Homo sapiens: one gene and its partners. The protein of the gene in region 1 interacts with the protein of each later gene in a pairwise test. Each region holds a gene or a part of one and is shown on either strand. Other genes may lie near its edges. The genes, in order: SLC10A1, SLC38A1, MAL and C2.

Region 1 (6,468 bases):
TAGCTAATAAGTCTTTTAATAAAACTTGAAGCACATGGTTATTCAAGAGATGTGTGAAAGTCCTTCCTATGCTGGGATAGGACCACTAATTGGTATAGGTGATGTTTTATATGATCATATCAGTTGCAACAAGTATTAAAAACAGAAACACAAAGCTGTGCAGCTGAAATTTGAGCAATATAAATGTTAAAATGTCGTTAGGACATTATGAATGTACTTAATGCCACTGAACTGTACACTCAAAAGTGATTAAAATGGCAAACTTTGCTATACATATTTTACTTTTTTAAAATGTTACTAGGAAATATAAAATGCAACACATGTGAATGAACCAAAAAATGAACCAACACATGTAACTATTACAAAATAACATGGTAAGTTTGAGAAAAGTTAAGTATTTCTTTACTCAGGAGATAAAAGGGACAGTCTTAAATTTACACATACCTGTTTATCATTTTGGAGGACGCAATTCTCTAAAATGCACACTGGAAAGTACAAAGTGCATGGAGTGCACATGCACTTTGAAAGGTTGCATCCTATGTTGCACAATGAAAAACCCTATAATTTCATTCAGAGTAGACCTGCATAGTTTCCAATGATGTTGTTATCACCCAAGATATTTCTGAAAGTTCTTTTGGGAACTTCCTTCATATTCAATTTGCAGGTCACTCAAGAAAGTAGGTTTGTCCCCTTATTATTAGACATCATTTTGGGTTTAAAACCGTATTTCCGGGCTTGATCATCCACCTTGTTTACCAGCTTTGTTTCAAATGACTCTTGGCAATTTCCAGAATTGATCCTAAAATGGATAAAATCCCTATCTGTAATCAAGGTATTTGAGACAAATATGTATGACAAGTTCTCATGAGTTTCAAAGTATGTGGAACAATGACAGTATTGTAGGAATGTGTATATAAGTTCCAAAAATACTTGACTTTTAAATAATATCCATTTTGCAGGAGTCCTGAATAGCCTCACGTAACACTTCACTGAAAGTCTGCTATCCAGAGATGTGTCAAAAGCAGTAACTGTGCTTGGCTGAGTTTGTAATAATCAAAGTGTTAATCAGCTGTCCCCAAGCTTCCTAGCTACTGATACGAAATCTAAAAAGATGGGCTGGGTGCAGTGGCTCACACCTGTAATCCCAGCACTTTGGAAGGCCAAGGCAGGAGGACCGCTAAGAGTCCAGGAGTAAGACCAGCCTGGGCAACATAGTAAGACCCTGTCTCTAATGTTAATAATTTTAAAAAAATTTAAAGAAAGGAATCCAAAAAGAAGATAAAGGTCTTTCATATTCCTTTCCACTTCCAGTGTTTTATTGCAATGTTTCCCACCTCCAATTTCTACCTGTGCTTCCCCACCTCTGTTCCTCTCTATCCCCAACTCTTCTAATTGCCTTTTCTTGTCTTCATTCCCAGGGAGGGATGATCATCATTCTCTTGTGCAGTGTGGCCGTCACAGTTCTCTCTGCCATCAATGTGGGGAAGAGCATCATGTTTGCCATGACACCACTCTTGATTGCCACCTCCTCCCTGATGCCTTTTATTGGCTTTCTGCTGGGTTATGTTCTCTCTGCTCTCTTCTGCCTCAATGGACGGTAGGTATTTTTTTTTTTTTTAAGAAAGGGTCTCACTCTGTTGCCCAGGCTGGAGGGGAGTAGCACATTCTCAGCTCACTGCAGCCTCAACCTCCAGGGTTTAACTGATCCTCCTGCCTCAGCCCCCCAAGTAACTGGGACTATAGGCACAAGCCACCATGACCAGCTGATTTAACTTTTCTGGAGACAGGGTTTTACCATGTTGCCCAGGCTAGTTTTGAACTAATGAGCTCAAGTGATCCACCTGCCTCAGCCTTCCAAAGTGCTAGGATTACAGGTGTGAGCCACTGCATGCCTGGAGATAGGTATTATTTTAGGTCCCACTGTCCCATGGGCTTCATTCTTGTCCTAGTCTTTCAGGAAACGAATAAGAAGCTAGGAACCTGAAATCTGGGCAAGACACTTTCCTGGCAATATGTTCAGATGCACTAACTGGACAAGAGACTTTAGACTTGAAAAAAATTGAATGAAGGTATTGAACGGGTTAAAAATCCAGACACCAAAGGTATCCAAACACCAGCAGCAATAGCAAAGTACCCCTGTCCAGGGTCTAGATTCCATCTGCTGCGAAACTCTTTGGTAGCAGCACTGGGACAAAGTTGCTCCCTCCAGTTCCCTCTGAGTGTATGTGGGGTTTTCTTCACCGGCACAGGTGCAGACGCACTGTCAGCATGGAGACTGGATGCCAAAATGTCCAACTCTGTTCCACCATCCTCAATGTGGCCTTTCCACCTGAAGTCATTGGACCACTTTTCTTCTTTCCCCTCCTCTACATGATTTTCCAGCTTGGAGAAGGGCTTCTCCTCATTGCCATATTTTGGTGCTATGAGAAATTCAAGACTCCCAAGGGTGAGTACTGAAATTATCCCCACTTCAAGTTCTGCTCCAATATTAGACCTGAGCCTGCCAACAAGCAAGTTTCTAGCAGGGACTTTTTGGATAGGGCTTTAACTCTTATCAAGTCACTAAGAACCAGGTAGCCCCAAGAAGCACCCAAGAAGCATTAAAGATCCAAGACTACTTCCATCAACTGCACTCCATTTCTTCCTTCTAGCTGGGAGAATGAAATTGCAGATGCAGTTTACCTCATAAAACTGAAGCAATTTGGGCTGCTTTGTCTCAGTGGGGAGACATCATAGGACAAAACTGCCTTGGACAACTGAGGTTATTAGTTGTGTGAAAGGCCTCTATTCGCAAGAGTTGGGGAAGTTTCCATTTCTCAGGACTAGGTTCTCATTTCCTGGAACCAGATCAGAGCCACAGCACCACTGGCACCTCCGTATGAGGAAAAACATATGAAAGCAATGCACCCTAATATAACCCAGAATAAAGAAAAAAAAAAAAGATTCCTCAACTCTAGTTACGCAGTAAAGGAAACTTAAGCATACGGTTGTTAAACAGTAACTACCTCCACAATAAACTTAATATGATTTATACTTTACTCTGATCACTATGGGGTTAACATAGCATCTCTTCTCTAAAATGCTCAGAGTATTACCTTTCAAAATAAAATTGAACCTCAAGACAGACCAGAGAACAGAGTGCCTTCCTCAAAGTGCACTTTAACACCAATTTTAAAAAAAAAAAAAAAAAAAAAAAAAAACAGGACATTCAAACCCACTTTATAACACATTTCATTATAACTCTCAACATTAGTATATTCTTCCTAAGTACCTACCCAAATCCTTCAACTGTCCCTTCATGTCCATGAATTGAAGTCCCCTTCAAAACCTTTCTAGACCCTAGGGACTGTGATTTACACCCTAGGAGAAATACACAACTTTCCCTATTGGAATTTGTTACATTATACTAGCAAGCAAATGCCGATTCTCTCTCCCTTTGCAATTAGCTAAGATGTAATTAGGTTGCCAAGCAGCCAACACGAAACAAGTACAGGCTGACCATACACTAGAACCATTTTAGAAGCTTTGGTTCAAAGCTACAGTAGAGTTGTGAGAAAGAATCTACTCTGATGCTTATCTGAGAGGAACGCAAGAGATTTGCTGCCCTCTTACAAAAAGTGCACAGAAGTTTCTAGACCAACCAAATTCCCAGATTTGAGGTTTTAGTACCAGAAAGACCTGAAGTGACCTCAAAGGACAATACTCTATGGATCTTTAGCTCTCAAGACTTGAAAAGAACTTTCCTCACAGTGTATCTCAGAAGACCCCAGTGGAAACACTAAATCAAAGCAACGTATTTCTTTGGACCTAATGGCCCCAAGAAGCTATTCTCAGGGGGGAGGAATCTGTCAAGTTTTTATACTTTTCATTCCTGCACCTGATGGGAGAACAACTCTGTATAGAGAACTCTCCCATCTGTATAGAAAGGTGCAGGAATCAAAGCTATCTTCAAATTTGCATCACCGCCTACACCACGGACAAGAAGAGGTAGATCAATTGGGGGTTGGAGGGAAGAACTGGAAACTCTCTTGGTTAGACTTTCTCGAAGATCTTTCCTGCCTGCCTCCTCATTCCCTGAATGCAACACAGACCTTGCATACATAAACTCATCTCCTGTTGTTTTACTGTATAACGAAGTTAGAAGTGAAGTGATGATGAAGACACAATAGTCTAATTCATTAGGACTTTTACTACTAGTACTACCATTAGGGAGACTGAGGGGAAAGTGAGTTTAAAGAGTAAACCATGGGAGAGACGACAGAGATGGAAAATATATACTTAGCACACTCTAGGGCTGAGTTGGTATTTTTGTACTTTCCAGATTAAACAAGCTTCATTGTTCACTCCTCTTGTTCTCTCTCTACACCTGTAACCCTTTTTAACTTTACAGATAAAACAAAAATGATCTACACAGCTGCCACAACTGAAGAAACAATTCCAGGAGCTCTGGGAAATGGCACCTACAAAGGGGAGGACTGCTCCCCTTGCACAGCCTAGCCCTTCCCCTGGTGGCCTGGATTCTGGTCCCAAAGCAATTCTGAAAGCCAGTGTGGTAAACTAGAGAGAGCAGCAAAAACACCAGTCTTGCCTGAGTCTTTCTCCAGCATTTCCAGTACATCTATCAGAATCATCAAGTCTTGGCCGGGAACACAGACAGGGTGTCTACCCAAGAAGCCTCACCTATCCCCAACTTAGAATTTGCTACTTATTTTAAAGACTTGTTCAGTGACTGTAAACTCTATGAAACCAGAAACCGAATCTGCCTCTTGCTGGGATCTCTAAAAGTGTCTGATAAGCATCTTAAAGTCACTCAATTCCTGAACTAATCAATATATATGTTTAACCCATTACTCAAATACCCAAATCCCATTCCAAGTTTTGTGACCCAAAAGAGAAATAAATGCTCACAAGTGCTGTAGAATTAAACTTCAGAAGTTCTAACCTAAAAAGTTCAGATCCTATTCCTTCCCTTTTGACATTATTGGGATGATGCTCCCGAAAAGTCAAATTTGACATCAAGTATGCAAAAGTGAACACAGTAAGATGCAATCAGGCAAAACAAACTCAAAAAATAGCTAATGAAATGAAAAAACTGGGCGAATGCATCATGTTAGTAGAGGAGGAAAACTTTTGACAAGGAAAAACCAGGAAACAAACACATACATTAACACAATGTTACCTCACTAATAATCTCTTTTTTAAGTTCAGTAGGTATTTGGTTTTAACACAAGGCGCCCCCAAAACTGGGTACAGCAAACTACTGCCAAAATGAGTCGTTTCCCAATTCAAAGAAAAATGTTCAAATACCTAGAATTCACAAATTTCAAATTGTCTCTAATAAAATTTAAACATTTTGCATATCATATGTAAATAAGGATCAAGTAAATGATTAACAACTAATATTAACAATTACAAAAAGTCAATCATGCTTATTAGTTACTTGGGATTTTTATCATTTTGTATGGTCAGGTACAAATGAAACCAAGACAATATAGTTTTCGGGTATCAGTTTGGCAAATGTGCAGGACTAACAAGTACTCCCAACACCAAAACGAGAAACACAGATTTGGGTTACTAACATCCTCTTAAAAACGCAGATTTTTGACAAGGCTACCACCTATCATTTTTACTTATTATATCCATATATACCTACCTGTTCAAATTGTTTTCTCTATTATCTAACCAACATCATCTGCTAGGAGACTTGGTTACATACAAGTTATGTAAGAACACATTTGTTTAGCTTTTGAGGAAGACAGGGTTGGCCTCAAACCATTCTTAGAAAGGAATAAAGATGGCCGGATGCAGTAGTTCACACCTGTAATCCCAGCACTTTGGGAGGCCGAGTCGGGCAGATCATGAGGTCAAGTGATTGAGACCATCCTGGCCAAAATGGTGAAACCCCATCTCTACTAAAAATACAAAAATTAGCCAGGCATGGTGGCACACACCTGTAGTCCCAGCTACTCGGGAGGCTGAGGCAGGAGAATCACTTGAACCCCAGAAGCAGAGGTTGCAGTGAGCCGAGATAGCACCACCGCGCTCCATCCAACCTAGCAACAGAGCAAGACCCTGTCTAAAAAAAAAAAAAAAAAGCAAGGAATAAAGATGAAACTAATATAAACATAGAAAACAAAGGTTAAACCATGCCCTACAAAGGCAGGTCCTAAACCTTTCCTTAGGATTACATCCACACTCCTCATGGTATCTGAAGCCTGGTTTTGAGAGTCCCTTTTTGAGACATAATTGTTATCTCCCTGCCATTTTTTTCAAAAGAAGGAATTTATCGTACTCCCTAACACCTCTAAGATTAAAAGTAGCTTAATTCTTGGCTGGGCACAGTGGCTCACACCTGTAATCCCAACACTTTGGGAGGCCAAGGCAGGCAGATAGATTATTTGGAGTCAGGAGTTCAAGACCAGCTTGGCCAACATGGTCAAACCTCATCTCTAATAAAAATACAAAAAT
Region 2 (8,142 bases), on another chromosome or scaffold:
GTTCTCAGGGGGAAATAGACTATATAAATGTAGGCATATACATTTCAGGTATTCTTAGTGCAATGAAGAAATAAAACAGGATCATGTGATGGGGGAGGATGCTTGAAATAGAGTGACTCACCGGGAGGGGCGGTGTGAGGGTATAACATTTGTCCTCAGACCCGAATGATGAAAAGGGATCAGCTATTTCCATAATTGAGGGAAGAAGGCCAGCGGAAGGAACAGGAAGAAGGAACAGCAAGTACTTATTGCACTCTTCTTTGACTGTAATATAATTGAACAGATAGATGAATAGATTTTAAAGGTGTTTTGGAGCTTTAAACCTATATGTATGTTGTTTATGTATATTTTTTATGATGCTTCATGAATTAAGGCCATTTAATGAAAGGAGCACCATGTTTCTGATATCTGACTATTGCTACTCTTTTCTTTACTCTGGGTGATGCTTGTGGACAAAAACCGATTTTACTCATTGTTCCTCTAATGTCCAGCACATAGTACCTGCTTAATAAATACTTGTTGGATCGAGACCTTGAGACCTTGATCAGGCCATCTTGTTCATCTCTTTGTGATATTATTGGCCATCCCTTCCGTTCTATATCTCATCTGTTCCCCTTCTCCTAAGTTTGAAAATGAGAGTCTTTTTCTTCTCTGCTTCTCCTTCTCGTACTGCCCTTCCCACTTTGAGCAGTGACCAGGCCCTTGAAAATACCCCTCACACTTGTCCTCTTGTCTCCATTTCCACTGCCCAAGTTCAGGTCCCTGTCACCTTACCTAGACTTGGAGACATATGAAACAGATATAGAGGTGCCTTGAACAACCTAGGGGCAGTGGGAGTGGGCGGTGGAGAAAAATGCAAGCACAACATATGGTTAAGAGTGAAACAGCCAGTTACTGAGGTGGAACAGCTTTCCTGTTGGTCTCTCCTCCATATCAAGTTATGCTCCCCTAATTAAATCTCCATTCTTTCATGAGGTTTATATTTCTAAAATTCAGTTCACATTTTGTTAAAGGACCTTGCTTTTAAAAACCTCTGAGGGTTTCCATTGCACACAAATACAGTCTAAATTCCTTAGCCATACACTTAGGACCCTTCACAATCTGCCTTCTCATCTCTTTCCAATTTTTTCTCTTGATATTTTCTTTCTCACAGTTCACCCTATTCCCTCCCTATCACTTTTCTGCTTCAATATCTGTGTGGATTGGATTCCAGTCCAGAATGCCTACTGAAATCCTGTGTACTTGTGATGGCCTATCCCTGATGCCACTTTTCCACCTCTTGGGAGAAGTGTTCACTGATCACCTCACTGGCATTTTCATAAGTATTTGTTTATCCTTCACATTTTGGACTGTTGTTACTCCAGGTGATGGAAGGTGGTGAATAGGGGCTTAGGCTCTGAGTCAAATATAAATATCAGGCCTCAGCTTACTCACCCAGGAATCTTGGGCAAGGTGTTTGGCATCTCTAAGCCTCAGTTTTTTCTTTTGCTAAATGGGAATGATGATGCTGGTGGTAGTGTTGGTGGTACCCACTTTACTGAGTGATGGTAAAGATTTAATGAAGATAATGAATGTGAAGTATTTGGTATAGTGTTAGCATTCCATATGTATTGAATTAAACATATCTACCAGAGGAGGGAGAGAAAGTTGATCAGTAAAGTTCCCTTTACCTCTGAAATTCTGTGACTATGTAATCTTTTAAAAATACTTTTCTGAAAATATATCTTGATGGAAACTACCTGGATCTTTTTAGTCTCTGGGAGAATATACATCTATGAAAGGTGGTGAGGAGGTAGGAGAAGTATGTGCACAGAAGTACTTTGAAGAATGTGTGACAGACTTCGAAAAAGACATCTTGTATGCAAAGGCACACAGAGTAATATAATGGACTGTGGAGACTCAGAAGCCAGAGGTTGGAAGGGAGGATGCCAGATAAAAAGCTACAGATTGGGTACAATGTGTACTACTCAGATGACAAGTGCACTAAAGTCTCAGATTTCATCACTTTCAATTCATTTATATAACCACCAAAAATCACTGATACCCCAAAATCTATTGAAATAAAAAAATTTTAAGTAAAATTAAAAGATTAACTTCAATAACCTAAAAAAAGACACTGACCCTAGATTTAAAATAAGATTTTAAATTTAAAAATATTGTTGTACTTATTTCTGAAAATTGATCACATATTTGTTTTCTAGTGATAACCTTACTAATAACAGAGGAGTTCCCCTAACCATGTTACCTTCCCAATCACTGAATTCCTCTACTATTAGTAAGTAACTCTGTTTCAAGTGAGGTTACAATGTGTCTTTGGCAATAACTAGCTGGGTACCCTTGAGCAACTCATTTCACATTTTTATGCCTCATTTTCTCATCTGTCCAATGCTAATAATAGTATCAGTGCTGCGTACCTCAGAGTTGTGAAGATACAATGAGAGCAGAGCTGAGAAAGTCCTTGAACAAGTTTAAAAAAACTATTCAAGATGATAGTCATCTGGCATTAAGCATGCTGCTAATCTTCAGGGTCAGGTGATGGTTTTAGATTAGTGAGTCTCAGAGCAGACTTCACATTAGACTCATCTAGGGTGTTTTAAAAGCTGTCAGTGCCAAGACTTCAACTCCAGAGATTCAGATTTAGTTGGCCTGGGATGGAGCCCAAATATGGGAGCTTAGAAAATATCAGGGGTGATTTTGATATGCATTGGTTTAGATTTAAAGCAAGGAAAACAAAACAAACATCAGAAATTAAATGAGGACCTCCATATGTTGCTTGACAAAGTCTTAGTCTTAGTAGTGTGAAATTATGAGCTTGACTGACTTTTCCCCCTGATTTTACTAAACCAACCATTTGTTGACATCATGGAGCCACAGCCTCAGGTTACAGTTTATAACCTGAATTTTCCCAGGCATAGACGCCTGTCCAGTGATACAGCCAGAGCCACATGAAGATTTAATGTGTAGATCTCAGTTTCCATCTCTTAGGAATGGCGAAGGTTGGAAAAGAAAGCGACAATGGAAAGGAAAAAGAAAGGGATAGGCTATGGACCAAGGTATAGGAGAAAGAGGCTCTGAGCAGGAGACAGACAGGTCAGAGCACAGAGAAAACACTGTGTTTAATTTATTGAACCGGTTTTGTTTAGGTTGCAAACTGGTGGCTAGAGAGCCAAATTAAGCTTGTGGGCATATTTTATGTGACTTACGCTTTCTTTTAAAATTATTTGAAATTAGTTGCCAACTCTTAAATATCAGAATTTCACTTAGAATTTTGATTTCTGGCATTTATTGAAAAACATAAAAATAAAAAGACCAGGCTCATTCCTGCCACTAGTTGGAGGGAAATAGATGGGACATGTGTTCTCTAGTTCCTTATGCCCAGTCTGCTTTGCCCATTTATCTTACCTACCTGAGCACTAGCTTCTTTTGTTTTAACTTTTATTCTCAATCTGGGGATCTTAACATTGGCTGCACATAAGAATGCTCTCCTCTGGAGAGCGTTTAAAATAACCATGCTTGGATCCTGTCCTATACCAATTAAGTCAGAGACTGTTGTGTGTGTAGTGTCCCCTTATCACTTTTATTTTTTTAAAGCTCCCCAGTTTGTTCCAATGTCCTGTTAGAACTGAGGCCTATTGGCCTACAAAGGCAACTATTCAAGAGATTTGTCTACAAGTCCACCTTCTTATCTTTGGAAGTGATTCATTAAGAAATAGTGTATAGAATCATTAATTCAGAGAACTGGGAGAGGTCTTTGAGAGAGCAGCCATTAATCCAATCTTCTTATTTTAAGGTGAGGAGACAGAGACCCAGAGAGGAGAAAGGAATTGTTCTGAGACTGTAACCATCATCTGGTATTGAATTATATAGTGTCTTTTATTACATTTTCTCTTTTCAAATAAAAGTCTATTTTTAAGATTTCTTTTTATAAATGATCCTCTTTATATGCAGCACTTTGTGATGCTTTAAAGTTCTTATTATTTCTGTTTTTCCTTGAGTATTTTGTTAGGAGTCATAACTTAGCTAGGGCTTAAAAACAAACACACAAAACTGTATCCATCTTTTTTAGTACAATAGCAATCCTTGATCAGAAATATCTTTAGAACAAAAAACATATATGCAAATAAAGAGATTTTTCTCAAGGGCTGAAATATTCCAGGCTGTTTTCAACTGCATGAGTTTTTAGTAATTATTTAAATCCATTAATTTTCAATTGACAAGAAATATTTTTAATTTTGTTGGTATTCACACTACTCATATACACTCACTGTTCTAATTAATTAAGATTCAATTCTTTTGGTGTTTTTTTTTTAAATGTAATATACAGTCTGTCCTCCTATATCCAGTTATAGGTTGACTTCATTAACTTTAGAGTTTATTTTTTCTGTCTTGAATAAATTGGAATTGTTTCAAAATTTCTGATATAGATAGGTTAGTTACCAACATCATAAGCTGGTCATGTTGATAACAGACATTTAAAAGATCATATGGGAACTTGAAGACAAGAGGAATTATGGAACGATTAAGAGCAGGTTTTGGGATCCTGTTAAGATAGGATGCACTGGGCAATTTGTCCAAGGAAGTTAGCGGTTCATCTCCATGCCCCACAAAGAGGGGGTCCATACTCATCCCCTGTGAGCTTCTGTAACACAGGGCTTCTTGCCCTTCACACTACTGGCATTTGGGGCCAGACAGCTCTTTGTTGTGTGTGGCTGTCCTGTGCATTGTATGATGTTTACCAGCATCCCTGGTCTTTCTCAACTAGATGCCTGCAGCACCCCCTCACTTACTGCAACCCAAAATGTCTCCAGGCATTGCCAAATACCTCCTGGGGGCAGGGAGAGGGACACAATTGTCCCCAGTTGAGAACCACTTCTTTAATACAACTCCTTCTCTGGACTTTTAGAAATCATGCCAAGAATTCTTAAACATTCCAAGCATAGTGGCTGGGACAGTAATGATAAATACCTTCCGTTTATATAGTTCTTTACAATACTAAATGCATTTTTACATAAATCCCACACGCCCAGATCAAATGTAAAGGAGATCAGGTGGTAAACTTAATGAAAACTATGAGGTAGGGCTATCCACATTGCTTCATGTTCCCATTTTTGTTTTGTTTTCCATGGGAAGATGGTGTTTGTGATGCTCACTGAATATATTGTCTGCAGGCAGGTGATCATAGCTTTCTTTTTAAATTTAGTCCTCATTTTTATTGTTAACATGTGTTTACTGTCACCATATACTAGACCTTTGAGATGTATGGTCCTTGTCCCCAAGGAATTGAAATTGTAAATAAAAAGATTACTGAAATATGAGCCCCCTTGCTATAAGCCAGTGAGTAATCTACACGAAACTGCTGTAAGAATTCATCACAGGTAAACAGTCAAGCAGGTTCTCAACTGGAACAATTATGTCCCTCTCCCTGCCCCCAGGAGGTATTTGGCAATGCCTGCGTTGGTCATTGGAGAAAGGCATCACAGAAGAGTTGGCTTGAATTTTTTAAAAAAGCAAGCAAGCTGGGCTTTGAAAGAAAGGTCATACTTAAGTTAGCATAGGCTTCATGGGAAGGTGGAGAGGGTGTGTCCAGGATCAGGGGGATGGTGTGAACAAAGCAGAAAACTGCATAAGAGTAGACCCATTGCAGGAATGGAAAATTAGAAGGAATATAGTGGGAGCATAAATTAAAGAGAAAGCTGTCTGAGGTTCTAGAGATTAGACCTCATCCTGTAGAGGGAACAGTTATGATTGGCAAGGCAGAAAGAGGAATGTGCAAGACTGTCTTTTCAGGAAGAATCTGCCTCTATAGGTGGGAGAGGGCAAGAAGCAGGAGGTAGCGTGGCGGAGAGTGACTGTGGCAAAGTTCAGGCTGTGAAACTGTAAGGAATAAGGGAAAGGAAAAGGATTTTGTGAAGGAATGTTGGCAGGACTTGGCAACTGATTAGATATGAGGTTGTATGAAAGCCATACTCAAGTTTCAAGTCTGAGTGACAAGGAGAAGGTGCATTATATCTTTAACAGAAATAGAATGCTGGCATGTGAGGTCAGGTGATGCGTTCTGCTTCAGGCATGTGGAATCTGAGGTAATGATAAACATCCTAATGGAGCAGTCCAGAAGGCAGCAGGAGTCTGAAAAGAATTTATGGAAATGTTTCTGAGAAGGAAAGAACCTGAGAGATAACCTCTCTTTCATGCCCTCTCATTTTACAGATGAAGAAACATGTGACATGTTAAGTGGCATGATCATGATCAAGTTGTATTTATGAGGGAGATCCTATTTCATAACGCAAAGGAATTCTAGTTTTATAAAGTGAAAAAGACTGGGAAGAAAGATCTGAAAGATGCCTTTGTAGAATGAAACTTGACACTACAGCCCTGAAGCCCTAAAAAGGAAAGAATTTGGAATATGTGGAGCAAGAAGAGTCGAGGCCCAAAGAGCTACTTCTACACAGAAAGTTGGGAGGAGGAGGGATCTGGCAGAGGAGACCAAGAAGGTCTTGGGAGGATGCAGTGTGGAGTTATTTGGGAGAAGTCAGAAAACAGGAACAATGGTCACAATAATTTACAAAACCCGGGCCAGACGCTGTTCTAAGTGCTGCACATGGACCAAGTCATGGAATCTTTATGACTGTATCAGATGGGTATTGCTTTAAGTCCATTTTACAGATGAGGAAACTAAGGCAAAGAGAAGTTAACCTTCTTTCCTGGGGCTACACAGCTTCTAAGTGGTGGAGCCAGAATTTCCTAATCAGGCATGATTTCAGGGGAGTGGTGGCAGGAGCAAGTAGTTTAGAGACTGCTAGCAGTAAAGAGAGGGGTGTGATGATAGTTCAAGGTTCTAGACAGAGTTATGTTCCAGATAAAGAGCTCTGAGGATGATGGATGTCAAGAAGGGAAGGCAGAGAGAGGAAGTAGAGAAACAAGGTCCTAGCAGAAGAGCCAGGACCTTAAGCACAGGTTAAACCATTAGTCTTGGGCAAGAAGAGAGTAAAACCACTTATTTTTCTGAGACCACTTACTAGCTTCCCAGGTTTTTCACTACCAAAGGCCATTTTTATTATTCCCCACCTTCCAAAAGCCCCAGATTTTCAAAGATTTTGATGATCGGCTTTAATTTTTTATTTTAATTAAAGTATAAATTATATGCAATGCAGTGTCCAGATATTAAGTATACTATTTAATGAGTTTTGAGTGTTGACTTTAATATATTAATTCATTTCCCATTTTTATTACTCAAAGGTATATAAAATTGCCAATCAAATTTAGGATTATCACATCAAGTTAATGAAGCCTTGCTAACAGTATGGATACCTCACCATTTAGTTAACCTGTTTAGCCTGTTTGAGGCCTTTTGAAATATAGATCCATGTTAGTTCTTAGATCCTTATCACTATCATCTATGAACCCTGAGGATCCAAGAACCCCAAGTGGGTAAACAGACACAGTCAGTTATGGGACTAGCTGGCCCGGAATTATAGAACCATTGTTGACCTTAGGCTTAACACTTTCTCCGCTTTAAAAATTATATGTATTTAAGGTGTGCAACGTGATGTTTTGGTATACATATGCGTGGTAAAATGGTTACTAGAGTCAAGAAAATTAATATATCCATCATCTCACGTGGTCACTTCTTTTTTGTGGCAAGAGCACCTAGAATCCACTCTTTTAGCAAAAATCCCATATATATAATACAATATTACAGGTTGAGCATCCCTAATCCAAAAATCCAAAACCCTGGCTGGGCACAGTGGCTCACGCCTGTAATCCCAGCACTTTGGGAGGTTGAGTTAGGTGGATCATCTAAGGTTAGGAGTTCAAGACCAGCCTGGCCAACATAGTGAAACCCCATCTCCACTGAAAATATAAAAATTAGCTGGGCATGGTGGCATGTGCCTGTAATTCCAGGTACTCGGGAGGCCGAAGCAGGAGATTCTCTTGAATCTGGGAGGCGGAGGTTGCAGTGAGCAGAGATCTCATCACTACACTCCAGCCTGGGTGACAGAGTGAGATTTCATCTCAATAAATAAATAAATAAACACATTTTAAAAAGTCCAAAACCCACAAAAGTCCAAAACTTAAAACTCTGAGCACTGACACGATGCCCAAGTAGAACATTTTACATCTAACCTCCTGTGATAGGTCACA
Region 3 (8,142 bases), on another chromosome or scaffold:
GAGATACCACTTCACACCCATTAGGATGGCTACTATCCAAAAAACGGAAAACATCAAGTATTGGATGTGGAGAAATTGGAACCCTTGGTATGCCACTGGCGGGAATGTGAAATGGTTCAGCCACTGTGGAAAACAGTTTGGTGTTCCCTCAAAAAATTACCCTCTGACCCAGCAATTCCACTCCTGGGTATATAACCAAAGGATTCCAAGCAGGGACTTTAGTATTGGCACATGCATGTTCATAGCAGCAGTCTTCACAATAACACACAGCCCAGTGGCCATCAGCAATGAACTGAATAACAAAGTGCGACATATCCAAACAATGGATACTACCTGACCATAGAAAGGAATGAAGTACTGATACGTGCTACAAAGTTGATAAACCTTGAAAACTCTATGCTAAGCAAAAGACACAAGGCACAAAATGTCATATAGTGTATGATTCCGTTTATATAAAATACTGGAATAGATAAATCCATAGAGACAGAACACAAACCCTGGTGGTTTGCCAGGGACCAAGGGGAGCAATTGTTTAATCGCTATGTGGTTTCTTTTTGGGGGTAATGAAAATGCTTTGGAATTAGATTGAGTTGGTGGGTGCACAACACCATGAATGTACTAAATGCCACTGAACTGTCAACTTAAAATGATTGGTTTGATGATATGTGAATTTCACCTCAAGTTTAAAAAACAAAAAATAGAAATATTTCAAATGCCACAGAAGAACATATACAATACTTTAACAGACACCTACATAATTATTGCCCAACTTTGTCAAATCTTAATATTTTGCCTTGTTTGCTGTTATGTATTAAGGAAATGAAGCTTTCAGATGGCATCTAAGCCTCCTAGACATCCTTCTGTTATCTTATTCTCTCTCTCCCTCCGTCCTCAGGGCCACCTGTAGGCTGAATGTGGTGTTCACTTCCAAGCACAGGTTAGACTTTTACTGCACACATATGAACTACACATGGCATTGTTTTACATGTTTTCGCACTTTATGAAAATGCCAGCATACAGTACGTATCCTTCTGCAACATGCTTTCCAGGCAACATTATGTTCTGAGATTTATACATGTTGACTTTGTTTACCCAGTCTTCTGTTAATAGACACTTTGGATAGTTCCAATTTGCTGCCTTTAGCTATTGCAGACAGCATTGCTAAGAACATTCTCATATTTGCCTCTGTAGTTACCTGTTGGAAATGTCTCCCAGAGACACTTGGAGGATGTGACTTGTTGGGTCACAGGGGATATGCACATTGTCATTTTCCCAGGTGTTATCACATTGCCGTCCAAAAGAGTAATTCCAATTTACACACCCCAGGAGCAGATTTACTGGGAAGCTGATGTTTAATTAAGTTCAAGACCCCTACTTACTCAAGCCCCTTCCAAGACTCTGCCTAATTTTGTATTCTCTTATAAAGATGGTCCTCCTGATTGTTTAAGCTTCAGGCTAAACCTGGACCTTCCCCGGCCCCTACCAGCAGCACATGAAAGTCGCCATTGTTCCTCATCACTTGGTAGCGTCAGACTTTATAATTTTCTGCTAGTCCAATGGGTGTGAAATGCTTGATTATTTTTTAAATCTGTAGTCCACTGAGTTGTTGATGACTCATAGTTCAGATTCCCATGCCTGACCTCCCAACAGCCTGGGAGGCGCAGATGTCCAAGCTGATCCGGGTGGAGCGCCACTTCCATGGTGAGGGGACTGCCCACTGGAGCAAGTGAGGGTGGCAGCTCAGGGTGGGGCATAGCAACCTCTCCTTGGCCCAGCACCCCTATCCCAGACCTCCTGACCTCTGAAAGCTGCAGAGTCCTCACAGGAAGAGGAAGGCAGGCCCAACTAGGAAGTGAGACTGCCTTTCCAAATACCTCCAGAGCCACAGAGGCTGTGCCCCTATTGCAGGTGGTGTGGTCATCAGTGCAGCCCCATATAGGCCAAGGGTGAAATAGCCAATGCTCTCCCCTCCTCCAACAAAACCCAGGGCTTTGCTTCTCGTCTGCTCCCCTGCAAAAGTCCCACCCAGTGAGGAACTTTTCCTTTTGGAGCCACTCTCTGTCTCTGTCTCCGTCTCCATTCTAAGCCAGGGACTTCCTTGACACTGGGCCACCATTCAGGGAATGAAAGGTTCACAGGGAAGGCTTTCTGTCTCAGCTGGGGCCCCCAGATGCGAGGTCTCCCACAGAGTGCCAGGAGAGACCCCCTACCCATTCAGGACTTGTGAAGGAAGTGCCTGAAGAGGGTTGTGAGATCATCTACTCAGCCCCCTCCTCCCCAGGCCACAAAGGAGGCAGGGTTGTGAGTGAGGGTGTGAGGAATGCCGCCCAGCCCTCCAGGGGCATGCCCTTCCTCCTCTGTGCCTCAGAAACACGAACAGAAGTGCAGTCACATCACGGGTTGGGGTTGGGGTGGGGAGACACCCGCAATCAGTTTGCAGTTTTGACAGTTACAGTGAACTGGACAGAGTAATGACTAAAATGACACCTTTTCTGTGACCCAAAGTGACTGGACTGTTATTAAGAGTGACCAGAGAGGTCTGGGGACTTCTGCTAGATTTCTACCTGGCTGGGGAATAGCCAGCCCGACAGAGCCGGGACTGGGCCATGGGCCAGCGAGGCAGTTTCGCATTAGGTGGTCCAAGCTGTGGCTGCACTGAGAAGGTGGCATGGGAACTCCTAGGAGACCAGAGACGTAGAATGACAGAAACCTCACTTTCAGAGCTGGCAGGGAACTGAGGCTCAGACAGGGAGCAACTTGCCTGGGTCACCGGGTCTCCAGGGTCCAGTGAGCACTTCTGGCAGTGAGCAGATCATGCCCAGGCTTCTCCTTTCACCTAATCAGCCACACGAGATTTTGCTTGCACTAGAAGGCACACTGGGATCCTGAGTAGGCAGCCCTGCCCACCTGGCAGCTCTGGGCAAGGCTTGGTCCCTTCTCTCCCCCAACAGGAATGAAGGGACAGCTCAGGACCACTGGGAAGCTCACACCTCCTCTGGGTCTCCTTGTCAAAAACACACCCTGCAGGTTCTGAGTCACGAGGTCCAGGGCAGGTTGAAGAACCCGCATTGCACTGCACACCCTCCACTGACTGGCTGAGACTTGGAGCGGACATCTCGAGGCCAGGCCACCCTCTTGATATTTTTATGGGGGATAGAATAGTGGGAACAGTTCTCAGGGAGAGGCTGGGGCAAGCAGCCAGGTGCTCTGAGGTTCTCACAAGTCAGACCAGGGACCTCCTCTGTTCTGGAGAAAGTTCCCTGCTGTGCTAGCTAGGAGCCTCTCCTACAGGCACCAGGGAGTGGGGCAGGCCCCGCTTGGCCAGAATGGGATGGTGGCTGAGTTGGCCTTCTCTGACTGTGTCCACTGGCTCCTGGCTCTGTCCCTTCTCTGTAGCTATTTAGAGAGGGCTACTGCCTGATCTTCCGTGTTTTCTCCTCTCTTCCTCTCTAAAGGGAGGAGAAGTGTTCTAGACAGAGATTTCACAGGGGTTTGGTGGAGAAGTGACTTTTCTGGTTTTTCAAGACCAGAGGCTGGCTTTGGTGAGGACTCAGTAACTTTGAGCTGCTCCCTGGAAACTGCTAAGTGTGATGATGGGGCTCATCTCCACAGGATTGTCAGACATGTGTCATCACACCTGAGCTATATTTTAAAAGATTGCCTTTTAGCTTTTCATAAGTCACTCCCCCACCTCACAGGGATGGGGCAATGCCAGAACTGGTGCAAAGGCACCCTTTCTGTCCCAGTGCTTTCAGAAGTGAGTAGGAAGCCCCACGATGCTGCTGCCAGCAGCGCTCACACTCAGGTCGGCCAGGGACAAGGGCTGAATTTTGCACCTATACTCGCCACACCAGCAGGCGAGGGGCAGAGCATATTGTGCTGCCAGCACAGACTAGCTCTGCACAGCCTTAGCAGTGGCTTGGCTTTGTCCTGGGCCCAGACACATTCTCCAGAGAAGGGGCTGGGAGTAGGGACTGGACCACCTGGGACCTGCCTTGACACAGGACAGAGCCAGCCAGACTTGAACTAGAAGGGGCTGGGGGCTGACTTAAGCCACTCCAGGGCTTCCTCCTGGCCCCTCCAGTGTCAGTGCCGGACATGGTGCTTTGGACCAGCAGGCCTCAGGGACAGGTGCTGATAGGACACCCCAGAGGGTGTACCCTCCTGGTGTTGATGGGTGTGAGGACAGTGGGGGACTGTGCCCCTTGTCCTTGAAGCAGGAACGTTCTGGGGTGTGTGGCCAGCTCCTTCTCACAGCTTTCAGATTGTTCCCAAGGGCATGGAGCATGGAGCAGGTCCCTCGTGGTCTCTCATCAATTTGGAAGGCTCCAAATTGCCTTTGACACCCTGGTGAAAGGTTTGATACCCAGTGAGCTCCTAGCTGGGCATGAGCAGTGTAGCCATTTCCCTTCTTGGGGTCATGAACGTGCCACACTCTGCTTCTCTGCAGCACTTCTCCCCAGGCTCTCTGCCGCTGCTACCTCATTCACAGCTAGTGTTCTATGCCAGGATTGGGTGAATCATTTTAATGTACCCGGGCCCTGGGTCCTGCAAAACATATGTAGGAAATCAAAGGAAAGCCTGTCACCAGCCACAGCACCTCCGCAGCGGGAAGAGAAGGTGCAGGGTCGCACAGCCAGCCTCACTGACCTGCAGTTCCTGGCCACAGCCTCCAGTCCCTGTGAGAATGCAGTGGGCTGGGAGGGGAGGGGCTGGAAGGGCAGGGGGAGGAGACAGAAAGTGAAGGTCCCAGAACCAACTTGGAGGGAGGCCCACGGGGGGCCCGGGAGGTGGGCACTCCAGGAATAGGGCCACGGGGAAGGACAGAAGATGACGTTCCCTGACCTGTCAGTGGAGTGGGGCGGGTGGGGTCTGCATGGCAGCCCCTCCCTCTTCTTCAGACTGAACTACAGGCCTGCATCTGCCGAAGAGGGAGCGGGATCCTTTGGCATTTCATCTTGTGCTGTATGTGTCTTAAACACAAACCTTGCTATTGTTTTCCTCTGAAGAAACAGAGGATATTGAGACTCATTGTTTCAGTGGCGGGCCAGGGAGGGAGAAGCCGGCTGGGAGTGGCCTAAAGACTAAGTGGTTATTCGCCACTTAGTTAACATGGAGGAGGCTCCATGTTAACGCGCCTGTAATCCTGGCACTCTGGGAGGTCAAGGTGAGAGGATCACTTGAGGTCAGGAGTTTGAGATCAGCCTGGGCAACATAGCAAGACCCCATTTCTACAAAAAATGTAAACAATTAGCCAACTATGATGGCTTGCACCCATAGTCCCAGCTACTCAGGAGGCTGGGATGGGAGGATTGCTTGAGCCTGGAGGTCAAGGCTGTAGTGAGCTGTGATCGCATCACTGCCCTCCAGTGTGGGTGACAGAGTGAGAACCTGTCATCAAAACAAAAATCTCATGGCCATTTCCAAAGCTGACCCTAGACACAAGAGGTAACTGTCACACCCATGGGGGCCTGGATCTGGGCCTCAGCCAGCTCATCAAAGGAGCACCCGGCAGCTGTGGGAACGTGGGCAGGTAACTGTGCCTCAGTTTCTGCATCAGTAAAATTTGGACATAGCAGCACCTGCCTCACATAGCTACTGCCCCATAGCTATCAAGTGCTGTTATTATTAGTTGACTAATAATTTAAGCATCTGCTCTGAAACCAACTGGCCGACCTGTGCCGATGGCAGGGTCCGCAAGGCCCGCCCCCATCACCTTTGCCATAGGTGCCCTCTGTTCCATTCTCAGGCAGGTGCTGCATGAGGATTGGGATTGGGCCAGGCTGTGGAGGGCACACTTGACTTTTCCCTGGAGTCACCGAGTCCTGCACAGACACCACCTTCCTGGGGCCTTCCCAGTGGCTCTCCTCTCACCAAGAAGGAACAACTGAGGGCAGAGGTCAGTGTGTCCTCAGCTAAGAGCTTGATGGAGCAGCCAAGGGGTGGAGGACAGTGTGGCAGCCCCAGCCTGCCTTCTGCCCAGGGAGCAGGCTGCTTTCTAAGCCTCTCTGCATCACCCTGCCAGCCTGGTGCCAAGATGGGCAGGCAGAGCTTTGTGGATTCTGAGTGTGACACATAGCTACATCTGCCCGCAGGCGTAGGAATGAATTATCAGCAGGCTCAGATTAAAGCTTTCAAAAGCGATTTGTCATCAGTGTCAGTGTGTCGGCTGTATGCAAGGGCATCAGTTCAGGGAGGGGGCAGCCTCTGGCAAAAACCTGTGCCCTCACCTCCCCCAGCCTCCATCCTGGCCCCCAGCTGCTTGGCAGGAGGGCATAGTTGGATTGAGGGGCCTGGCAGGAAAGGAACCGCCGAGCTTATGGGTCTCAGGACTATTTCTAAAACCAGCCACAGACCTCCTTCATCTCCATCTGTGGTCAGGTTGGGGGCAGCAGTGGGAATGCTTCTTTGTTGGAGGTGACCCTTTAGGCCCGAGCTAACCCATCCCCTCCACCGGGAAGCCCACCCTTCTAGCACCCTTTCCTGGCACTCAGAGCACATCCTGCAGACCTTTGCTTATTGTCTGTCTCGTGCCTACACCCTAAGTCTGCCCACATCCCTGGCACAGATCAAGAACTCTGAAACATTTGTTCTCAGCAAGCATCGGTAGGGAAGGGGCTCGGGTCTCCTCTCTCACCTACCTAACACTGATGAATCATAAGATGAGTCCTTGACCTCAAAGGCGGACAGAGGGTGAAACTGACAAAGGCTGCCAGTCCCCAAGAGACTCTGGGAGTTCCATCTCCCTTGGACCCTCCCAGACCCTGGGCGGGCAGCCTTCTGTCGCCTCTGGCAGGTGTACACCTGTTTTGTTGGTTTGTTCACATTACTAACCTACCTGGTGACTCCCATAAATCCCTTTTGTTTTTCTTGCATTTAAGCCACTCCTGTCTGGTCCAGCATTTCCACGGATTTTGCCTTTTACAGGTGGCTTACCCAGTATTTTCACAGAACCTCTTGGTTTCTGTTTATCCTGCTGGGTAAGGCCAGCAGGTGTAGATGTGGTAGGCAGAATTTTCCATTCAAATGAAGACATGCCTATCAGAAAGCCCCTAGATTTGTGGATCTGAGAGGAGTTTTTGTGCATTCAGGAACTAGTGACCATCCTCTAGCTCATGAGGGAGGTGGGTGTTAAGTCAGCAGTCACTTTGTCCTGCTGGCAGCGTGTGCTATGGGAGAGGCTTCCCTGGGGCTCAAGGGGGGTGAGATTGCAAGCCTGAACAGGGGGCTCTTCCCAGTCCAACTTGCCTTGTTAATATAAACTATGGCCCTCCACTCAGCTCTTAGATTTTTTTTTTTTTTTTTTTTGAGACAGAGTCTTGCTCTGTCGCCCAGGCTGGAGTGCAGTGGCATGATCTCGGCTCACTGCAACCTCTGCCTCCTGGGCTCACGCCATTCTCCTGCCTCAGCCTCCTGAGTAGCTGGGACTACAGGCGCCCACCACCACACCCGGCTAATTTTTTGTATTTTTAGTAGAGACGGGGTTTCACCGTGTTAGCCAGGATAGTCTCAATCTCCTGACCTCGTGATCCGCTCACCTCAGCCTCCCCAAGTGCTGGGATTACAGGCGTGAGCCACCGTGCCCAGCAACAGCTCTTCGATCTTTTAATCCCAAATCTCTATCCCCTTCTTCACAAACTGATCCAAACCCGCTGAGTCCTGCTCTTGCCTTCAGATTAGATAAGGAACACTGTCTAAGGCTAGCTGGGGGTGATGATGGCATGAGGGGTCCCTCTGGGAGGAAGAAGCCTGCTAATGAAGAGGCCAGGAGGGGAGAGTGACTGGTGTAGGTAAACCAAGTCAGGTCCCAGCCCCGCTCCCAGGGTTCTCTTTGGTAGCAGTCCCAGGGGTCAGACTCCCAATAATCTGCCTTTTCAGTTGATGCAGGGAGAGGGTCACCACCCAGAGAATCTCGGACCCCTCCCCCGATCTCTCCTCATGGGCTCAGGTGGGGATCTTGTGCCAACTACCGGGCTCTGTACCTGTCCTGTGTGACGTTTGGTATCTGGTCACCATTGCTCAGACACTGACACTTTCACCAGGCCTGAATCCACCCTTGGTGGACCCAGAACTGCTCCAGTGGGGACTGTGGCAAGACTGCATGAGAGAGGAGAGGAAGGGAGAGATGGGCTACGTTCATTA
Region 4 (8,137 bases), on another chromosome or scaffold:
ACAGATGGAAGGAAGCTGGAGGCCTGAAGGAGGCTGATGAGCAGCTCTGCCAGCCAGGGCCACACACGCCATCTCAGCCTTGTCTGCTTACCCTGAGCCTCTTATTTTGTTTTTATTTTTTTTTTGTTGAGATGGAGTCTTGCTCTGTCACCCAGGCTGGAGTGCAGTGGCACGATCTCCGCTCACTGCAAGCTCCATCTCCCGGGTTCACGCCATTCGCCTGCCTCAGCCTCCCGAGTAGCTGGGACTACAGGCGCCGCCACCACACCCAGCTAATTTTTTTTTTTTTGTAGTTTTAGTAGAGACAGGGTTTCACCATGTTAGCCAGGATGGTCTCGATCTCCTGACCTCGTGATCCGCCCGCCTCGGCCTCCCAAAGTGCTGGGATTACAGGCGTAAGCCACCGCACCCGGCCTCTGAGGCTCTTATTTATTTATTTTTTTTGAGATGGAGTCTCGCTCTGTCTCCCAGGCTGGAGTGCAGTAGCGCGATCTCAGCTCACTGCAAACTCTGCCTCCCGGGTTCCTGCCATTCTCCTGCCTCAGCCTCCCGAGTAGCTGGGACTACAGGCGCCTGCCACCGCGCCCGGCTAATTATTTGTATTTTTTAGTAGAGACGGGGTTTCACCGTGTTAGCCAGGATTGTCTCGATCTCCTGACCTTGTGATCCACCCGCCTCGGCCTCCCAAAGTGCTGGGATTACAGGCGTGAACCACCGCGCCCGGCCTCTGAGGCTCTTATTTGAAAGTGCAGCAAAATTCTATCTTATTTAAGTTACTGTATTTTAGGGTCTCTTTATTACAGAAGTTTAACGTGTATCCTAATAAACACACTTCTCTGAGTGTTGCCTTTGGCTCTCACATTGATTTCTTGCTAGGTATATCAGTTAGACATGGTTTGGCTTTGTTATAACCAAGCTAGAATAACAGCAGCTTAAATGGTCTGAGCATAAGTGGTCCAGGTCAATCCTATTAGCTCTACAGGATTGGAGAGCAGGGCCTCTTTAATTTTGTTTCTTTATCATCATCCACATGTGACTTCCATTTTGTGATCTAGGTGGCTGTTCCAGAGTCCACCATTCTGTCCACATTCCAGCTGGTGGGAAGGGAAGAAGTTTTATACATTGAGGAGTAAACACTTCTCCTTAAGAACATACTCTGTGGGCCCAGAAAACTTGGGAGTTTTATTACTTAAGCAGGAAGAGAGAATGAATTCTGCCACACTGTGCCAAGTTGATGTAGCTCAACAAATACTGGGAAAAACTCATGAAAGAAAGGCCCTTTCTTTTGAAGGCAGCTGTTACATATTAGTTTGATGGCTTTAAAAGGCACCCAAAGTTTAGTGATTTGAATGTTCAGTCAGGTTAGGCTTCATTACGTTCTGGTAACCAACAACCTAGAAATATTTGTTGCCATAGGAGGGCTTACAAAATATAGCCATCAGTCTCTCCTATTCTGATGTGCCTGCCCCTTTGCCGTGTGACTTTGCCATTCCTCCTATCAAGAGGTAAATTCTATGCCTCCAGTCTTAAATCTGGGCTGACCTTGTGATTTGCTTTGACCAATAGAATGTGGCAGAAGTGATGTTATGTGACTTTTGGGGCTAGGCCTCGAGAGACCTTGCAGCTTATGTTTTGGATTCCTCAGAAGTTGTCCTGAGACTGCCATGCTATGAGGGCTAGGGAGGAAGGACCTGCTGTCCTACTGTTAACTGAACTCAGCCCCTAGCTGACTGCCGCTGCATGGAAGATCAGCAGAAGAACCTTCTGGCCAATATGAGAAAGAATAAATCATTTTTAAATTTCCTACATATTGGGTGGGTACTTTTTTTCCTGCATTAGTAGAAATGCAATGAATTAAAATAACAAAGGTTTATTTTTTGGTCATATTACTTATCCACTGAGAGTCAGCCGAGTATTGCGCTTTTTTTTTCTTTTTTGAGACAGAGTCTCCCTATGTCACCCAGGCTGAAGTGCAGTGGTGTGATCTCGGCTCACTGCAATCTCTGCCTCCCGGGTTCAAGCGATTCTCCTACCTCAACCTCCTGAGCAGCTGGGATTACAGGCGTATGCCACCACGCCCAGCTAATTTTTGTATTTTTAGTAGAGATGGGGTTTCACCATGTTGGTCAGGCTGGTCTCTAACTCCTGAACTCAGGTGATCCCCCTGCCTCGGCCTCCCAAAGTGCTGGGATTACAGGTGTGAGCCACTGTGCCCGGCTGGTACTGTGCTTTCGATATCACCCAGGGATCTTGGCTGGTGGAGCAGCCACCATCTCAGACGTTACCATACAGAGGGGAAGAGCAGGGTGAAGACTACATTGAGCTTCCATCAGGAAGTGATACATATCACTTGTACTCACATCTTATTGGCTAAAACAAGTGGCTGGGGAAATCCTATCCTACCATGTGATTGAAAGAAGACAAGGCTACAGTATTTGTGAACATCCTTAAATACCCCCCACCTTTACGATAGTTTATTTCTCTCTTGTAACAATCTAAGTGGCTGTGCAGGGCTGGTATGACATCAACACTGTGTCAGACACCCAGGCTCCTCTGTCTGTTTGCTCTGTCATCCCCAGCATGTTGCCCTCATCCTCCTGGTGGAAGACGGATCTCCGCTAGGTTTATATTCCAGCCCATGAAAAGAAAAGGCACACTGCCTTTTTATTTTAGGGACATAACTTGGAAATGACATACATAAGTTCTACTAACATCCCATTAGCCAGAACCAAGTCACCTGGCTACCTAGCTGCAAGGGAAGCTAGGAAATATGGTCTTTAGCTGGGTGACTGTGTGTTCCCCTAACCATCTCTTACTGTGGAAGGAGGGAGAAAAGATACTTGAGGGGCAGGGGAGGCACTAGCAGCTCTGCCACAGCAGCCACTTTGGAGTCCCTAACACCAGGATGTCCTGATTTTCATGCACTTAGCCCTGTCCAAGGGGAGTCTCAATTTGTGTACTCTTTTTTTTTTTTTTGAGACAGAGTCTTGCTCTTGTCACCCAGGCTGGAATGCAGTGGCATGATCTTGGCTCACTGCAACCTCTGCCTCCCGGGTTCAAGTGATTCTCCTGCCTCAGCCTCCCGAGTAGCTGGGATTACAGGCCCCTGCCACCACACCCGGCTAATTTTTTGTAATTTTAGTAGAGACGGGGTTTCACCATGTTGGCCGGGCTGGTCTCAAATTCCTGACCTCATGATCCACCCGCCTCAGCCTCCCAAAATGCTGGGATTACAGGCGTGAGTCACTGTGCCCGGTCTTATTTTTTTTTTTTCTTTTTGAGATGTAGTCTTACTCTGTTGCCCAGGCTGGAGTGCAGTGGCACAATCTTGGCTCACTGCAACCTCCATCTTCTAGGTTCAATCAGTTCTCTAAGGACTCACTTATAAATCAAAAGGGTTTTTACGAACCTAAATGATCACTTCAGAGAGGTTTCATGTTCATTTTTTTATTGGTCTTATTTATTTTTACCCTACATTGTTCAAAAAGGTATTGAAAAGACTTCTGTGGGTCAGGGAGACTAACACACTAGCTTCAAGTTTCTTTGCTTCCTGCATTTCATACAAGTGTAGGTTATGATTTAAAGGCATATCCCAGCCCCCGCAAAAGTTTTATTCCTTTGAGTAACCAACCCCAAATGTATTTACTTTGCCAGTTGGGAATTTCATCTACTAGACTTTCCGTAAAAATGTTGTAAACATTTTTCCTGTCTCCAAAACTAAGTGTTGATTTCATTTTTTCCACCTAGATTATCTCTAGGGAAGGATTGTAGGGAATAAAAAAGTATTGTCAATCTTCCTATTTATCAAGAAGTTCTAAAAAAATTAGTTTCACCCCCCTCGGAAGTTTATCTTCAAGAAGACAGAACTGTTCTAGGCTCTCAGGAAGTAAAACCCACTTGGTACAACCCAAAAGAACACTAAAACTTTACTTAAATGAAATATTTTGCAATATCTTGGATGGTTTGTGGGTTTGTGTGCTTTAGACTATTGACTATTCACACAAGAGCAAGGTGCATGTGTGCACACACGAGCCCAAATATGTGTTTGCCTGCGTGTTTGTGAGCATGCGTGTATGGTGCACATGTGCACGCATGGGTGGGTGGAGCGTGGGGGCAGTACACAAAGCCTGTGGGGGAGATCTATTGACCCTATAGATATATTAGCATCAGGGAGACAGGGCAAAGGTTTCACCCTTCAGTTCAGTCCCCAATCCCTGCTTATTATTTCCCTAACAGAAGACCATCCCCCTTGCCACTCCCTGGTTTTTCTTCTCTGGCAGCAATGAAGCAGCTGCTGACCCAGCTCTAGTTTTCGGGAAGTCAGATGACCTTTTCCCTCCCGCGGCTCTCTACCTCTCGCCGCCCCTAGGGAGGACACCATGGGCCCACTGATGGTTCTTTTTTGCCTGCTGTTCCTGTACCCAGGTAGGAGGCAGGGAAGGGGGAACGTCAGGGTCCTGTGTGTGAGGTTGGTGCTCCCAGCTTGAATTCCCATGTGTGAAACAGTCTCTTTTGCTTTCCTTTTCTCATCTGTGTCTTCCTTCTTTCTCCATTGCTGTCTCCTTGTTCCCACGGCTCTAGGTCTGGCAGACTCGGCTCCCTCCTGCCCTCAGAACGTGAATATCTCGGGTGGCACCTTCACCCTCAGCCATGGCTGGGCTCCTGGGAGCCTTCTCACCTACTCCTGCCCCCAGGGCCTGTACCCATCCCCAGCATCACGGCTGTGCAAGAGCAGCGGACAGTGGCAGACCCCAGGAGCCACCCGGTCTCTGTCTAAGGCGGTCTGCAAACGTGAGGCTCCCTGTGGGCTTTGCTCAGGGTGCTACACCAGGGGCCACCCCAGAACTTTTGTTTAGGAGTTGCTCAGGGTGGGACTTAACCTGACTAGATGGCAAAGTTGCTTTTGCAGAGGGCTTTTCAAAATATCCAGAAAATGTCAATTGCCAGTAGCAAGGAATTGGGAACAGGTCTTGATGGAGACTGTGGGGTACTAAAGCCAGGGATGACTTTTTATGTACAATTGACTGCCTAGTAGTGACCATTCAGAACAGATGCTGAATGGTCCTGGAGTCCTCTAGACATCTGAGGATCCCAAGGGGAGTGTCTGGGGAGGCCACGGCCCTCAGGAGACTGAGGGAAGTGGCTATTTATCAATCAGTTCGCTTAGACTCTGTGAAATTGGCAATATTCAATCAGTTGCCAAAAACAGCAATTTCACATGTTGCAACCTAATATTTCAGTGTTTTGACAGCCAGTTGACCATTCCCATGCATTCCAGCATAAAATCACCTGCTTAATCCCCAGCCCAGGTGTTATCCATCCAGTCCTATATTCCCCACCCACTTCCTCTCTCTCCAGCTGTGCGCTGTCCAGCCCCTGTCTCCTTTGAGAATGGCATTTATACCCCACGGCTGGGGTCCTATCCCGTGGGTGGCAATGTGAGCTTCGAGTGTGAGGATGGCTTCATATTGCGGGGCTCGCCTGTGCGTCAGTGTCGCCCCAACGGCATGTGGGATGGAGAAACAGCTGTGTGTGATAATGGGGGTGAGTTCTCTGGCTGATGGGCTACACAGGGGGCTGGGGTCTCCTGGGGAACCCTGGGGCCCAATGTGCATCCAGGAAGCCTCTGTGGGGATAGGAGTCTGTTGTTCAGTGTGCCATAATAATATTCCTGGATTTTGGTAAATTGAGGTCTACAGGTCACACATCACAAGTCTGCAAGGGCCAGGCCCCAGGCAGCTGGTGCTAAGCTTCAGATGTAGCATAAAGCCTCCACACACTCTGCCTGGCTTTTCTAAGTGCCTCAAAGCAAGACTTCATATTCAGGCCCCACAGATTGTTGTAGGGAAGATATGCTGGGAGAGAGTCAAGTACTGTGCTTTAATGCCTTGCCTTTAAAGCCAGGTTTGGGTTCCAAGCCCTACTCTGACTTTGACAGACTTTGGGAAGGCTATTTAACCTTTCTAGCCCTCAGTTTTCCCATCTGTAAGACAAGGATAGTGAGTGCTGACCTGAGATTGCCATCTGGATTAAATGAGTTGACATTAGTAAGCATATACAACAGCCCTGGAGTGCGGTGGCTCACGCCTGTAATCCCAGCACTTTGGGAGGCCAAGGGGGGTGGATCACAAGGTCAGGAGTTTGAGACCAGCTTGGCCAACATGGTGAAACCCCGTCTCTAGTAAAAATACAAAAATTAGCCGGGTGCGGTGGCGCATGCCTGTAATACCAGCTATTCAGGAGGCTGAGGCAGGAGAATCATTTGAACCAGGAAGTGGAGATTGCAGTGAGCCGAGATTGCATCATTGCACTCCAGCCTGAGTGACAGAGTAAGACTCTGTCTCAAAAAAAAAAAAAAAAAAAAAAAATGCCAGCCTCGGTGCCTCACGCCTGTAATCCCAGCACTTTGGGAGGCTGAGGTGGGTGGATCACCTGAGGTCAGGAGATTGAGACCAGCCTGGTCAACGTGGTGAAACCTCGTCTATACTAAAAATACAAAAATTAGCTGGGCGTGGTTAATCCCAGCTACTCAGGAGGCTGAGGCAGGAGAATCACTTGAACCTGGGAGGCAGAGGTTGCAGTGAGCCGAGATCGTGCCACTGCACTCCAGCCTGGGTGACAGAGTGAGACTCTGTCTCAAAACAAACAAACAAACAAACAAACAAAAAACAAAAAAAACAGCCCCTGGAATCTGATAAATGCCATGTACACTTTTTTTTTTTTTTGAGACGGAGTCTAGCTCTTGTTGCCCAGGCTGGAGTGCAATGGCGCAATCTCAGCTCACCGCAACATCTGCCTCCCGGGTTCAAGTGACTCTCCTGCCTCAGCCTCCCAAGAAGCTGGGATTACAGGCATGCGCCACCATGCCTCGGTAATTTTCTATTCTTAGTAGGGACAGGGTTTCTCCATGTTGGCCAGGCTGGTCTCAAACTCCTGACCTCAGGGGATTCTGCCCACCTTGGCCTCCCAAAGTGCTGGGATTACAGGCGTGAGCCACGGCATCCGGCCTTGTTTTTGTTTCTTTAAGAGACAGGATCTCGCTGTGTTGCCAAGGCTGGCTTCAAACTCCTGAGCTCAAGTGATCTTCCTACCTCAGCCTCCTCAGTAGCTGGGAATGCAGGCATGTGCCACCACACCTGGCCATAAGCACTTTTGTCATAGTTATTGCTGCCCCTGTGAATGGTGAGGGGCTCTGCTTGGCAGAAGTAGGGCTCCTAGGATTCCCTGGAGCTGCATTTGCCTGTGGGTTTGGGAGCTTCTTGGATCATGGTTCTTAGCACATCATACAGAAGACACGGAGTCCACAAGATGGCAGGACCACCTTCACCTAGTGGCCCAGACCATGGATCCCCACTCATGCCCTTGGGTTTTGGCAAATGGCCATTTATTCTGTAGGAGGGTGAAGTAGATGCCTGGTAAGACTGTGATAAGTAATGCTTGAATTATTAGACGTGACTCTAACTTATTTTAAAATTGAGGCATAATTTACCTATTGTAAAATGTACAAATCTTAACTATTCAGCTCAATGATTTGTTACAATGCATCCACTCATCTAATCACCACCCAAGACAGAATGAGGTTCCCTCTTGTCCCCTCCCACAAGGTAACTGCTCTTCTGACCTCTGTCTCCATGGACTAGGTACCTTGTGCTTACATTTCCTGTAAATGGAATCATGCGGGATGTGGTCTGTTGCTTCTGGCATCCTTTGTTCTATATTCTGCCTGTGAGATTTATCCATGCTGTTGTGTGTATCAGTACTTTGTTCTTTTTTATTGCTGTGTAGTATTCCATTATATGGGTATATTACAATTTATCCATTCCCCTCCTGATGGACATTTGGATTATTTCCAGTTTGGGGCCATTAGGAGTAAAGCTCTAGGAACATTCTTTTTTTTTTTTTTTTTTTAATTGATCATTCTTGGGTGTTTCTCACAGAGGGGGATTTGGCAGGGTCACAGGACAATAGTGGAGGGAAGGTCAGCAGATAAACAAGTGAACAAAGGTCTCTGGTTTTCCTAGGCAGAGGACCCTGCGGCCTTCCGCAGTGTTTGTGTCCCTGGGTACTTGAGATTAGGGAGTGGTGATGACTCTTAAGGAGCATGCTGCCTTCAAGCATCTGTTTAACAAAGCACATC

The links.
Region 2: the proteins of SLC10A1 (region 1) and SLC38A1 interact in binary tests that used the Homo sapiens proteins (3 or more experiments, as listed by UniProt).
Region 3: the proteins of SLC10A1 (region 1) and MAL interact in binary tests that used the Homo sapiens proteins (3 or more experiments, as listed by UniProt).
Region 4: the proteins of SLC10A1 (region 1) and C2 interact in binary tests that used the Homo sapiens proteins (3 or more experiments, as listed by UniProt).

Annotation. Positions count from the first base shown.
Region 1 is NC_000014.9:69,774,311-69,780,778, reverse strand, and holds the end of SLC10A1 (hepatic sodium/bile acid cotransporter), read left to right. Parts: intron 1-1,418; coding exon 1,419-1,597; intron 1,598-2,249; coding exon 2,250-2,446; intron 2,447-4,390; coding exon 4,391-4,497; 3' UTR 4,498-5,363; downstream 5,364-6,468. UniProt on the Homo sapiens protein: As a major transporter of conjugated bile salts from plasma into the hepatocyte, it plays a key role in the enterohepatic circulation of bile salts necessary for the solubilization and absorption of dietary fat and fat-soluble vitamins.
Region 2 is NC_000012.12:46,258,545-46,266,686, reverse strand, and holds part of SLC38A1 (sodium-coupled neutral amino acid symporter 1), read left to right. Parts: intron 1-170; exon of another isoform or gene 171-241; intron 242-8,142. UniProt on the Homo sapiens protein: Symporter that cotransports short-chain neutral amino acids and sodium ions from the extraccellular to the intracellular side of the cell membrane. The transport is elctrogenic, pH dependent and driven by the Na(+) electrochemical gradient.
Region 3 is NC_000002.12:95,028,380-95,036,521, forward strand, and holds part of MAL (myelin and lymphocyte protein), read left to right. Parts: intron 1-8,142. UniProt on the Homo sapiens protein: May be involved in vesicular trafficking from the Golgi apparatus to the cell membrane. Plays a role in the maintenance of the myelin sheath, and in axon-glia and glia-glia interactions.
Region 4 is NC_000006.12:31,923,374-31,931,510, forward strand, and holds the start of C2 (complement C2 isoform 1 preproprotein), read left to right. Parts: upstream 1-4,343; 5' UTR 4,344-4,379; coding exon 4,380-4,425; intron 4,426-4,581; coding exon 4,582-4,791; coding exon of another isoform or gene 4,792-4,819; intron 4,820-5,358; coding exon 5,359-5,544; intron 5,545-8,137.